2 linked regions of the Homo sapiens genome follow. The protein of the gene in region 1 interacts with the protein of each later gene in a pairwise test. Each region holds a gene or a part of one and is shown in the gene's direction. Other genes may lie near its edges.

Region 1 (4,335 bases):
AAAAATTTTTAAAAATATATCATTTTGGAGGAAAAGATAATCCAACGCAAAAGCAAGGGGTGACATTGAAAAGCAAGGAAGCTTGAGTAAAAACAGGAATGTTGTTTGACTCATCATCTGTGTATGATTCTATCCTAGCCTCCTGACCCATTGTCTCTTCTTGTCCAGGGGTTGCTGTGGCACTGAAGCAAGCTATGACTCTGGAATTTAAAGTTTATCAACACCAGGTGGTGGCCAACTGCAGGGCTCTGTCTGAGGCCCTGACGGAGCTGGGCTACAAAATAGTCACAGGTAGAGACACAGATGGTGTTCAGCAGGCCTGTTCTTGTGGTTGTATTAAGGCTTGCTTCTCAGTTTGTGCAACCAGGATGTGGCCCAGGCTCTGCTGCTGCAGCTGCAATGATGGGCCCACCTTGGGAGGAGGTCAGCCTCGCCTCCAACTGGAAAGCCTCCCCCTGCCTCAGACCAGCCAGCCGCCCCCTTGGGTGAGCCACAGATGATGGGAATAGTGGTTGCCATTGGTCACCAGCATAAGGACTGCTTGTCCTCAGAACAGCTTTGCAGGAGGATGACCTGAGGCTCAACTGAGAGGTTGGGCTGTAGTGGTCACACACCTGGTAGGTGGCACCAGGACTGTGTGGTGATGCCTTGCACTGTGCCAGGGGAGTGTCTTCTCTCACCCCGCTGAGCTGGGGGTGCAGGGGCTCTCCCCTCCCAGTTTCCTGCATATTCCTGGGGAGTTGGCTTGCTTTAGGCATGTTTGCTTGGATCTGTACATTCTGGAGCTGATGGGCTGTGAATGAGATGGACTTCCCAGGTCAGGGCCCCACTCTGGGGTGCCATCCACCTCACAGTCACTGCAGCTTTCCACGGAGAACGCATTTTTTTGGCAGGCAGCATACTCAGTCCTCCGGAGGAAGGGCGACTTTATACCTAGTCCCACAAGACTGCCGATTGTGCTAGCAGTGGTGTGGTCCAGGAATATGGGTCCTGCTGTGTGTAGACCTGAGTGCCCACTCTCTGCACCGTGTCCTTTGCCCTTTACAGGGATTACAGGCCCTCTGATCTAAGGATTGGGGAGGGATTACAGGCCTCCTGGTCTAAGGAGTGGGGCTCCCACCCAATCCTGCATGTGCGGCAGTGCCTGGGAAGGCCGGGCCAGTGCTGTCTCCTCAGCAGTACCAGCCGTACCCTCTTTTATGTTCTACTTCACTTACTTTCTGTTCTCCCTTCATCCTCCATGTCTTCAAATAATAAAGCTCAAGAAGTCCTCGTGCAGACTGTGAACTTCAGGGTGCTTTAGCTCAGGAGTCCCCAACCTCCGGGCCACGGACTAGTACTGGTTTGTGGTCTGTTAGGAACCTGGCCGCACAGCAGGAAGTGAGCTGGGCCGAGAGCATTGCCACCTGAGCTCCGCCTCCTGTCAGATCAGTGGCAGCATTAGATTCTCAGAGGAGCTGAACGCTGGTTTGAACTGCACATGTGAGGGATCTAGGTTGGGCCTAGACACTTTCAAGAAACTATCTTTTTTTTCCTTCTGATTATACCTGCATCCTTATGAGAATCTAATGCCCGATGATCTGAGGTGGAAGTTTCATCCCAAAACCATCCCCCGATGCCATCCGTGAAAAAACTGTCTTCCACATAACCAGTTCCTGGTGCCAAAAAGGTTGGGGACCACTGCTTTAGGTCCCTGTTTCTTAAACTTCAATGTGCACACCACCCCTGGGGCTGTTGGTGCAATGCAGATTCTGACCAGGCCTTGGGTGATGCTGGTCTGGGAGCCACCCTTGGAGTTGTGAGGGTTTAGGCCATAGTCCCTGTCACCATGGGCATCTCATGGCATGGGCCTGCCCTCTCCCTGGTGACTGTGTCATTGTCACTCTGCCATCTGAGGACCCGATGCACATGGCTGAGACAGATAATGCTTGCAAATGCCCTCTTTGGTGCCTGGTGCTATGAGAAGCACTATGTCCAGTATCTTACTTAAACTTCATGACAGCCCTGTGAATTATTGGTCTTTTTGTTACAAATGGGCATCTGAGGTTTCACAATGTTGAGCTGCCTGCCTAAAGCCACACGGCAAGTGGGTGGGCACAGCTGGGGGGCTGCAAAGCCAAGCTGGAGCCCTAGCTCACCCGCATCTTGAAAGGGATCCCCGCAACACAGCTCAGAAGCAGAGGCCCCAGTGCTGTCAGCACCCAAGGCACTACCCCAGCTTAATGAAGGTTCAAAGTGGAAGGATCCTCCTGTATGACCTCGGGCCAGGTCCAGAAAACTCTGTTAGCCTTGCTGTTGTCACCTTACCACTTTGATAATACCATCAGCCTCACAGGATCCGGGAAAAACCTACCACAGGCTACAGTGTCTGGCACCTAATGTGCTCTGTGAACATGCCCCTTACCCCCCAAAGTAAATTGAACTGCTGCCCAATATTCATGCTGCCTTCAGGGGAGCCTTTACCATCAATGTTAGGGAATTGCCCAAGCAACTTGTCAGAGAAAACAAGCCAGGAGCAGCCTGAGGAAGCTGTCCCTTCCCCATGGGAGTGTCAGGCCCTCTGCTGTATGATCAGTTACCCCTTTCAAAAGTGCTCTGTCCTTCCTTTCACATTCTTAGGCACGGGCATCTCTCGTGGGGATTAGAATCCCAGGCCATGTGGTGGGGGTGCTCACCTTCCTGACCTCATCTGCTTTGACTGCCTTCATCCTCGCCTTCGTTTCTCAGAGATTCCTTCACGGCATAGAATTCGCCTGCATTTCTACATGTCCAACTTTGTTTCCAGGTGGTTCTGACAACCATTTGATCCTTGTGGATCTCCGTTCCAAAGGCACAGATGGTGGAAGGGCTGAGAAGGTGCTAGAAGCCTGTTCTATTGCCTGCAACAAGAACACCTGTCCAGGTGAGAATCATCCTTGCCTTCTCCTTCACTCCTCTCCCATCTGCATTTCTTCTGGCCAAAGTTGTAGCTGATGAATATATTGGCTCCGGGGACAGACCTCACATAAAAACTGTAGTGGGGGCTGGGCACGGTGGCTCACGCCTGTAATCCCGGCACTTTGGGAGGCCGAGGCAGGCGGATCACTTGAGGTCAGGAATTCGAGACCAGCCTGGCCAAAATGGTGAAATCCTGTCTCTACTAAAAATAGAAGAATTAGCTGGGCATGGTGGTGCATGCCCGTAATCCCAGCTACTTGGAAGGCTGAGGCAGAAGAGTCGCTTGAACCCGGGAGGCAGAGGTTGCAGTGAGTGGAGATTGTACCACTGCACTCCAGCCTTAGCAACAGAATGAGACTCTGTCTAAAAAAAAAAAAACTGGGCCAGGTGCAGTGGTTCACACCTGTAATCCCAGCACTTTGGGAGGCCGAGGTGGGTGGATCACGAGGTCAGGAGATTGAGAAGGCTAACGCGGTGAAACCCTGTCTCTACTAAAAATGCTGTGGTGGCACACACCACGGTCCCAGCTACTCAGGAGGCTGAGGCAGAAGAATTGCTTGAACCCAGGAGGCAGAGGCTGCATTGAGCCGAGACTGCGCCACTGCACTCCAGCTTAGGCGACAGTGAGACTCCGTCTCAAAAAAACAAAAACAAAAACAAAAAATGGAGCGGGGGCAGGGACCATACCTTGGCTGTCTCTTGGCTGTGCCTTTGTACTTGGCCCTGACCCTGCCAGGGAGCAAAAAGACTGATGTAGAGCTGTTGGAGGTGGTACATTCATCAGATGAGGGAGGTCAGGGCCTCCGGAATCCAGAGGCTGCATTTCTCTGTGGGTTGTTAACAAAATATTGATGACGCATCTCAGACCCAGACAGATGTTACCCTCATTTTTAGGAGCAAGGGGCACATCAGACCACTTTGTGTACTAGTAATTAAGTCAGAGTGGCCAAACGTGGTTGTGCCTCCTTGTGCCTTGGGTTCTACTTTAGTTTCTGAATCAGTTGTACTCCTTGCTAGGGACAGCCAGTATCCTCAGGCCAGTTCTCTTTTGCCCACATGTCCCTTTTTAAATGCACCACCATCACAGTGGTGACAATGTGACTTAGGGACAGAGCCCCGTTTATCTTGTAGGTGACAGAAGCGCTCTGCGGCCCAGTGGACTGCGGCTGGGGACCCCAGCACTGACGTCCCGTGGACTTTTGGAAAAAGACTTCCAAAAAGTAGCCCACTTTATTCACAGAGGTAAGGATAAAAGTTTGGAAGTTGCCACATCTTATTGTGTGTATTTAGTTTCTGATTGTGATGAGTAGCTGAGACCCTGCCACTGAAAGACAATTCTGCACCAAGGCTGAGTGTTGGGGTGGGAGACAGCAAAAAACACATGTAAATCACCTTGTC
Region 2 (3,500 bases), on another chromosome or scaffold:
TAATTTTAAAGCATCACAGTTTTGCATCATTTGTTGTTTTATTAATGCGGATGAGTCAGGGCAGGCTGCGAATGCCTCAGGAAAGACCCTTAATGGACAGGAGGGTTGTTTCCCCCTCAGGCTTTTCTTTGGGGCCTGTCTTAAGAGCATACACACACAGCCATCCCTCCACTCAGTTCTTGAAAGCTGCCTTCTGCTGGAGTCACAATTTGTACAATAGAGAATATATGACCTAAGGATTAGGTTTTCCCTCCCAGCACTTGTTTGCTATAGGAGTTAAATCATTCTCTCAAACAGTGGTCCTGTTGCAGACTGATCAGGGAAATCTTGTCTGCCAGATAGATGAGAAATTAGCATGATTCATTTTCCTTTTCCTTTTCCTTTCCCCCTCCTTTGCCTCCACCCTCCATAATTCCATGAATCAATGGTCCTGAGAAGTAAATGATAGTACAGACACTATAGTCAGCATCGTCCCTGACCTGGACTTACGTGATTCTGGAAAATTATAATATTAGGGAATCCTGGACCTAAAGACCAGAGCTAAAAAGACCAGCTAAAGCAATCATCTGGTTGAGGATGCTATTCAGAAGAATTTCTAAAGCACCCTAAATAAACATTTGGTAAAGGACTAAGCAACTTAAGAAGCTTGTAGCTTTAATACAGACATCAGTTTAAACCCATTTAAGGGCTTGAGAACCCACAGCTGTATCTTCTAATTTCTGATTAGATATTTTAAAAATATCTAAGCCTAATCAGTTTGAAGTAATTTGATGGGCATTAGTTTCTAAAAGTCTGCATTCATTTCTAAATCTGAATTAAACTTTTTTAAATGCAATTTTATAACTTTTAGCGTTACATGGAAGCTTTAAGCAAGATATATAATGCTGTCAGAACAAAGTCTTATCACACAAGTTAGTAAATAGGGTTTAGTAATGTGGAGAACTTGGAAGCAGAGTTGCAAACTAATAGAAATTAGGACTTATTAAGTCTCTGAAAAATTTATTCTTCAAAGTTAAAGCTTCACACTGTCCTGTTGGGTTAGCAGTTTGTTTTTTTCTTATAGATGGCTGGCTTCTCCTTCACTCCTGGCTAAATGAACAGAATTCAAGTTGTAAGAACTCTGAATTAGTAATATTCTATCATGCAGTAGACTCTTTAGCATTCTCTAACAGGATTCTGTGATTCATAACTGATCCCAAAGTTTCTTGAGACATAATCATTCATCATTTTGCCAAAGAATACATTTGATCCTCTATATTGAGAGGTTGGAGTAAGGCTGTGGCTCATGAAAGAGGATATTGTAACTGCCATGTTCTTCATGCACATTGAAAATATTATCTGTAGCTGATGATAATACATACTATAATACTACCTCATCTCCTACTCTTTCTCCCCCAAGAATCGTATTTTAAAAACAAGAACGCTTGGCAGGTTGGACCTCCGCATTCTGTGTTTTCTTTCTTAAGATAAGCTGAAGTAAAACTTGGCTTACCATGTGCTCAATGTAAGTCACATTAACATTCCCCACATTACTCAAAGGGAGGAGAGAATGGTGCGTTGAAGCCCAAGATACAGCCATGTGGGAGATATATGACTCCTCCTAGTCCCTGTCACATTTGGCAGGGATTCTGGTGTGAGTGGGGCATTTAGTCACCTAGACAGCAACTTATATAGAGAAAAGGCTGCTCAAGTCCTCGATAAGCCCAAGGGATGACTCCTTAGCCAGTAGGTGGGAATAATCAGAACCATGCCCCACAGATCTCCTAAAGGGTTGTCATCACCACACCCATTTCACTGCCAAGTTCTCCATTGGAGAGGAGGACTCAGCTAGCATTGGCATCCCCTTCCTAGTCCACTTAAAACCTTTAGTCTTGGCAATATTCCCAACAAGCACATACAAACACGTGTGTGCACATATGCGGGCACCCCATGTTTTCAAGGATTTAAAGAAATAATTAAATGTATTTCCTTCCTACAAAAGGGCTCAGGGACCCTTCCTATTTGGAAAGATGGAGACAAGTAGAATTTCAAGGAATTAGGGAGTCCCAAGGAACTGGCTTTTCCAGGACCTTATTTCTTTCTTTTCCTATCCCTATTCTCCCTGACTGAAGTGGAAGCCAAGAGAAAAAGTCAAGCAAAAAGGTCCCAGAGGTGGGTGGGGCACACACATATGTTAGAAACACAGTGTGGATATTGGGAATGAGAATGGGCATGCTCAGCTATACTACATCAGATCATTGGGATTTTCTACTTTTATATAAAAGGGAGCAAAAGGCACCCAAAGTTGCCAGTAGATCTGTACTTTCAAACAGGAAGAGAATGAGAATAACAAAACAGTTTCTTCCTAACTTCTGCTGTGTTCCCAGAGCCTCTTGAGACCCACCCCTTCCGGGTCCTTGTTTTTGGATGCTTGGTTGTGAATGAGTTACCCTACCTGCTGAGTCAGCTTCTATTGAACCAGAAGAGTCAGAGCCACTGAGAGCCAACTGATGCTTAAACATTTATGAAAGCACTTTCAGTATTCCTCGTTGTTGTTTTTCTTGTGGGATGATTGATCTGGGCATTTAAACATACCTTGCAGTATAAAATCCAAACTTCTTTGTTTAGTACACATAGCACTTCACAATCTAGCTCTTGCCTGCTGCCTCCACCACTTCCTCTACTCCACCCTTGCTGAGCTAAGTGTGATTCCCCAAATTACTCACATGGTTGCATGTTGCTGTGCCCTTGCACAGACTCTTGTTTCCCTTCCCTAAGTATCCCCTTCTCTCTGTCTTATGTTATCAGACTTCTTTTCTACTTCAGCACCCATCTGAAACATCAGGTGATGCCTGGAAAATTTCTAGGCAATTTGTTCATTTAGAGGGTAAATTTAAATTACATAGCTTACTGAATGACCGAAGCATCAAGGAGGGACAGCTCCACGGTGTCACCTTTACTAGGACTCCTATTGCTTCTAAATGGTGGGTACATTTGAAAAGAACGGGTGCATTTGCCAAATAATACATTTGGTCCTCTATATTGAGAGGTTGGAGCGAGGCTGTGGCATACTATTTCTCAAGCATCACTTCTCCTAGAAGGCCTCTCTTGTTCTTACTCCCACAATTGGCCTCAAGCTGTTTCTCTGAGCTACCGCATCATCCATGTACATCATTGTCATTAGCGTCAGCATGCAACATTCATTCACTTTTCCATTAATACAAGCATCCATTTAACAAATCTTTGTCGAGTGCTAGCACAGGCCCAAATTTAAGAGATTTAGTTGGTAATACAGATATAAACAACTGAAAAAGTAACCAATGGTAACAGTTCATAGTGTTATAGCTGATGCAATATTAGAGCTTTAGATATTGACAAAGATCCTGGTAGTGTACAACATAATCCAAAGGAAGAAGGAATATTTTATTAGAAGCCTAGCCACTCTGGAACTCAATATATATAATAGTAAAGGTTGTTGTAAATTCAAAGCAAAAAACAAAACAAAACAAAAAATCTCATAC

What was found. Proteins that work in one complex are often made in the same cells at the same time.
Region 2: the proteins of SHMT1 (region 1) and PRSS23 interact in a two-hybrid assay, tested with the Homo sapiens proteins (one large-scale study listed by BioGRID and IntAct).

The regions. Positions count from the first base shown.
Region 1 is NC_000017.11:18,329,122-18,333,456, reverse strand, and holds part of SHMT1 (serine hydroxymethyltransferase, cytosolic), read left to right. Parts: intron 1-168; coding exon 169-291; intron 292-2,785; coding exon 2,786-2,902; intron 2,903-4,068; coding exon 4,069-4,179; intron 4,180-4,335. UniProt on the Homo sapiens protein: Interconversion of serine and glycine.
Region 2 is NC_000011.10:86,803,542-86,807,041, forward strand, and holds part of PRSS23 (serine protease 23 precursor), read left to right. Parts: intron 1-3,500.